Linked DNA regions of Homo sapiens: region 2 is linked to region 1. The links come from fine-mapping of genetic effects on gene expression. A gene starts in region 1. The other region holds a variant in brackets. All regions are shown on one strand. Distances are between the middles of the regions. Region 1 holds the start of BTBD1 (BTB domain containing 1). Region 2 has its middle 17 kb from the start of TM6SF1.

The links. PIP is the estimated chance that this variant, and not a neighbour inherited with it, causes the effect. A credible set is the group of variants that fine-mapping cannot tell apart.
Region 2: its variant is the best candidate, but not a certain one, in a credible set for the expression of BTBD1 in whole blood (INTERVAL, PIP 0.61).

Annotation. Positions count from the first base shown.
Region 1 is chr15:83,065,999-83,068,905 of GRCh38, reverse strand. BTBD1 (BTB domain containing 1) reads left to right here and starts at 1,654. Exons shown (of 8, transcript NM_025238.4): 1 at 1,654-2,155. The coding sequence starts at 1,755. It overlaps MIR4515 (microRNA 4515), which reads right to left and starts at 1,571; the gene lies at 1,491-1,571. RefSeq lists enhancers at 1,207-1,256, 1,267-1,386 and silencers at 1,447-1,926, 2,167-2,336.
Region 2 is chr15:83,088,919-83,091,825 of GRCh38, reverse strand. No RefSeq gene overlaps it. Among named protein-coding and RNA genes, the nearest start is that of TM6SF1, 17 kb to the left of the region's middle. The variant G/TG (reference allele first, on the strand shown) is at 1,443.

The sequences.
Region 1 (2,907 bases):
GACTCCGTCTCAAAAAAAAATTTTTTTAGAGACAAGTGGAGAAACAAATATTAACTGTACATTAAATATTATACATAGGACCAGGCCTGGTGGCTCATGCCTGTAATCCCAGCACTTTGGGAGGCCGAGGCGGGTAGATCACGAGGTCAGGACTTGGAGAGGAGCCTGGCCAATATGGTGAAACCCCGTCTCTACTAAAAATACAAATAATTAGCTGGATGTGGTGACACGCACCTGTAACCCCAGCTACTCGGGAGGCTGAGGAGGAGAATCGCTTGAGCCCGGAAGGCAGACTTCATGCCATTGCACTCCAGCTTTGGCAACAGAGCGAGACTCCGTCTCAAAAAAAAAAAAATCATATATAGATGATTTGATGATATGGTTAATTTTGTTAGGTGTGATAATGGTATCATTAGTAGCATGATGTCCCTTTGTCTTTAGGAATTGCCGGCTGGCAATGGGGAAGGGGTTGTGCATCCACTATTTCAGCCCCTACTACTTTAAGTCTCTTCCCAAGCACGTTCCTCTCCCAAAGAAGTTACCATTCTAAATGCCTAACAGCTGGAAGTCCCCTCTGGTGGTTTCACAAGTGGAGTGATTTTACAGGAGAAACCCAGGTTTGGGGTTTACTATTTACTTGACGGCATTTGTAATCTGTAAGGCTCTTCCTGCAAAGAACAGGTGTTTCCAACTATACGTGCCTGGTCAAGGACTATTTCTTGGGTTTTCTACGTTCTGCTTTTGACAGCTGACTTAACTCAGGGCCTGCCTCACTGAAGGGAGAAAAAGGAAGGCCTCGGTCCCCCAATCATGATGACCGGGTTGTAAATACTGCCTGGGAAGGGATAATACAGCCTTTTCCATTGTGTGTGTGTTTTAGTTTTTAATTTTTTAAATTTCAAGCTTAGGCAGTGGTTCAGTGCAAGGACTGAAAAGCGCTACAAGAGAAGGTGGGCAAGCACGAGGGGTTTCAAATACAGGGGTGGAAGCAGTAGAAGGAAATGTCTCTTAGGCCCAGAGGACGGAACCAAAGGGTCAATTAGAAGGGAAAGGGACCTGCGGACCTGGGGAGAGGTCACTGGGGTTCTAAGCCTTCCACCTCTGCTTCCGGAATTTCCACGGGTTTCGCGGCCTTCTGGAGCGGCGACTTGGCCACGCTTGGGGTACAGGGTTGTGGGAAGTCATGTCATCCCCTCCCTCACGTGTTCCCTTGGCCATACTTTCCTGCCCCTCCACTTCCAGGCAAAACACTCCTCGGGACAGGCCTTGGGACATGTCCCAGATACACAATGGGGGCGCTGGACTTGGTGATAAGGGGCCTGCAGGAAGAAAAAGGCAGCCGTGAGAGCCGCCTGCAGATCCACGATGCATCTTAAAATTACAAATTCTCAGGCCCTACCCCAGACCTACTGAGTCAGAATACCCAGGGCACTGAGCCAGGGGGTGGGTGCCCGTAGGCCCGGCAGCACCCAGCCTGCAGAAGCTCCACCTCCGGGAGCGCTGAGCTAGGACCAGCTCCCCACGCCCCTGCCCTGGGGCTGCCGGGAGTCCAGTCCTGTTACACCTCCCGCGGCCGCGCACAGCGGCAACCCGGGCGTGCGGGGGCGCGCGCGGTCAGGGAGGGGCCTGCGGAGGCGCGAGGCCCCCGGAAGCGCCTTTCCCGGAAGGCAGGGAGGCAGCGCCGGCCTCCGGAGGCGGCCTGGGCGATGGCGGCGGAGTTTTGTCCATAACGTGGGCAACCGCGCAGCTGGAGGATGGCCTCACTCGGGCCTGCCGCAGCTGGGGAGCAGGCGTCGGGGGCTGAGGCGGAGCCGGGCCCCGCGGGGCCGCCGCCGCCGCCCTCACCGTCCTCTCTGGGGCCCCTGCTCCCCCTGCAGCGGGAACCTCTCTACAACTGGCAGGCGACCAAGGCGTCGCTGAAGGAGCGCTTCGCCTTCCTCTTCAACTCGGAGCTGCTGAGCGATGTGCGCTTCGTACTGGGCAAGGGTCGCGGCGCCGCCGCCGCTGGGGGCCCGCAGCGCATCCCCGCCCACCGCTTCGTGCTGGCGGCCGGCAGCGCCGTCTTTGACGCCATGTTCAACGGCGGCATGGCCACCACGTCGGCCGAGATCGAGCTGCCGGACGTGGAGCCCGCAGCCTTCCTGGCGCTGCTGAGGTGAGCGGCAGCGCGGGCCGGGCCGGGCCGGGCCGGGCCGGGCCGGGCCGGGCTGGGAGATCCCCGGGGCCCGGCCTACCCGGACTCCCGGATGACCTTGGGCTGGGCTCTTCTGACCCGCCCGGGGCCTCAGTTTCCTCCCGAGCCGTTGATGCTCCGGAGGGTCGAAATCGAAATCTGTGAACCAGGACGGCTCAGTCGCCAACTAAACGTTAGTGTCTTCATTAGGCAAGCGTGCGTTTTACCATTGAAAGGCGTTTCGCATTCCAATTATGGATTGTCGCTCAGACTTCAGAATTAGACAAGTGGCAAGGATAGAGGGGCAGATCAGGTTGTCCTGATTGCCCATTTGCGAAGTTTTATGTTTTTGTTTGGGGGAAGAGAGTAGTTGAAAAATCTTGCAGGACTGATGTTTTGGGGTTATTGTCACCCCCTTCCCCCCGCTTTTTTTGAGACAAGGTCTTGCTCTGTTGCCCAGGCTGGAATGCTGTAGCGCGATCATGGCTCACTGCAGCCTCGACCTCTCCGGGCTCAGGTGATGCTCCGACCTCAGCCTCCCGAGTATTTGGGACTACAGGCACGCGCCACCACGCCCGGCTAATTTTTTTTATTTTTATTTTTGGTAGAGAGAGGGTTTCACTATGTTGCCCAGGCTGGTCTCGGACTCCTGGGGTCAAGCGATCCGTCCACCTCGGCCTCCCAAAGTGCTGGGATTACAGGCGTGAACCACCGCGCCTGGCCACTTTTTTGTT
Region 2 (2,907 bases), 23 kb before region 1:
CCTGCCTCAGCCTCCTGAGGACTACAGGCACACACCACCATGCCTGGCTAATTTTTGTATTTTTAGTAGAAACGGGGTTACACCATGCTGGCCAGGCTGGTCTTGAACTCCTGACCTTGTGAGCTGCCCGTCTTGGCCTCCAAAAGTGCGGGGATTACAGGCATGAGCCACTGCGCCCGGCCTAATTTTGTATTTTTAGTAGAGATGGAGTTTCTCCATGTTGTCCAGGCTGGTCTCGAACTCCTGACCTCAGGTGATCTGCCCGCCTCAGCCTCCCAAATTTCTGGGATTACAGGTGTGAGCCACTGCGCCCATCCTAGTGAAACTTTTAAGCAGAGGAGTGACATGCTCAGCTTGGCCATTTTAGTAGCTTAGTCTGGTAGATATACAGAGAATGAGGTGAGGGGGTATGAACTAGGCAGCAAAGAGCTGAGAAGAGCAGTAATCTAAGCTACAAATGAACGGGTCTTGACTATGGCGGCTGCAACGAAAGGAGAAAGGAAAGGTTAATTAGGAATCAAATCTAAGAGTTTGATGATTAAATGGATGTTGAGAAACATGGACCACAGAAGAATTTAGGGATGACAGCTGGCTGGGAGAAGGAAAAGGAAAGGGAACTAAAAGGACTAAGGTATACTGAGAGATGCTGAGACCTATTTGGGTTCTTCTCTGAGGCCTGGAAACAAGGTCCTCCTTCCTTGTGCTTGTGGCTGCCCAAATAAAATCAAGTTTTATAAACCAGGGAAGAAAGGAGAAAAAGATGTTGGGTAGTGCTTATAAGATAGAAACTTGTTGTATGCTTGACGCATTACTTTCAGTGCCTGTCTTGATTCTCAAGCAACTCTACAAGGTACTGTTTTCACTGGGAACACATGAAGTTACAGGTAACAGAATGCATAAATCTGGTTTAAGCCATGAAGACATTTGAAAATCTGACATAAGAATCCTGGAGAAAGAAGTTTCCTTTTTAGCTGCAGTGGCTCAAGGATGTCATTAAGAACCCGGCCTCTTTATGTCTTCCTAATCCTCCTCCTCAACACGTTGGTTTTTCACTCTTAAGCTTGTCAACACAAGGCTTTTCCCTTTCCGGGATTTTATCTTTAACTAGGCTACAAGAATCTTTCCAAAAGCCTGCTTCCAGACTCTTCCATCTCATTGGCCATAATTGGCCACATGCTGAGTTCAGAAGCAATCTCTAGCAGGGGAACGGGCTAAGCTTCAATCAATCATGACTTTTCTCTGAGGCCTGGGGACAGGTATTCCTTCTTTGTACATGTTGTGGCCCAAATGAAATCAGGTTGTATTAACTAGGAAAGAAGAAGAAATAACTGTTAGGTAATGGTAGTAAGTCATATTTCCAACCTTCAGAACATCTGAGGAAAGGGGACAAAAAGAAAAAAGAATTGACCCAGGTCAATCTCCTAAATGCTTTTTTTTTTTTT[G/TG]AGACAGAGTTTCACTCTATTGCCAGGCTGGAGTGCAGTGGCACAATCTCGGCTCACTACAACCTCCACCTCCCAGGTTCAAGCGATTCTCCTGCCTCAGCCTCCTGAGTTGCTGGGACTACAGGCAGGCACCACCACGCCCAGCTAATTTTTAGTAGAGATAGGGTTTCACCATGTTGGCCAGGATGGTCTCAATCTCCTGACCTTGTGATCCGCCCACCTCAGCCTCCCAAAGTGCTGGGATTACAGGCGTGAGCCACCACACCTGGCCCAATCTCCTAAATACTTATTGATGGCATTTACAATCAGAAAGATAACAAAAAGCCCTTATTTATGCAATAATTTACCAGGATATAGCTGATCTGTCAGCTGTGTAATTACTGAAGTATAAAACGAAGGTGTTTCCTGACCTCTTTGTGTAAGTTATATCCTGCATGCATCACTTAAAAACCTCCTATGTCCATTTTGTGCCAGGGTGCATCCTAATATGGCGAGAGAGGACCGGGAGCTGCACTGGTGGTCCTCAGCATCTCTGTGCTTGGCCCAAGTCTCAATATCATGTGTATCTTTCGAATTCTCAGTAAAGGCCAATACTGGATAAGATTACTGAGTCCTGTGAGTCTAATTGAACAATCTGATCTTTTATGTTATCCTAGGTAGGTAAACAACAATGTTATTATCCCCATTTGACAGAAGAAGAAATAGAAACCTAGCAAGGTTTAAAACCTTGCCCAGGCCGGGCACAGTGGCTCACGCCTGTAATCCTAGCACTTTGGGAGGCCAAGGCAGCCAGATATCCTGAGGTCAAGAGTTTGAGACCAGCCTGGCCAACATGGTGAAACTCCGTCTCTACTAAAAATACAAAATTAGCTGGGCGTGGTGGCGCGCACCTGTAATCCCAGCTCCTCAGGAAGCTGAGGCAGGAGAATCACTTGAACCCAGCAGGCAGAGATTGCAGTGAGCTGAGATTGCGCCACTGCACTCCAGCCTGGGCAACAAGAGAGAAACTCTGTCTCAATTAAAAACAAACAAACAAACAAACAAACAAACAAAAATCCTTGCCCAAATTCACCTAGCTATTGATGAGTAGACCAGGATAGCAGGATAGCAACTGGGGCTTAGCTAGTTTCTACCACAGCATGTGGCTAACTGGTTGGTGGTGTTATTCCCTGAAATAGGAATGTGATGAACTCTTTCCCCTCATCTCTGGACACAACTGTATGACATAGCTAGCACATTTCTGTCACATTCTTATATAAATGATCTGTTGAGGCCACAGGCTATCGTCAGACAGCCAGACATTCTTCCCGCTTCACTACCAGGATTTTGGCTGGATTTTTTTTAAGGTAGCAGAAATTTACTTACAAGGAATTGAAAGAGGCTCCAGGGAAGGAGATGTAGTCAGTTCAGTTTGACATGTCTGTAGGACACCAACAGATTTCTAGATGTTTGAATATTCAAAACA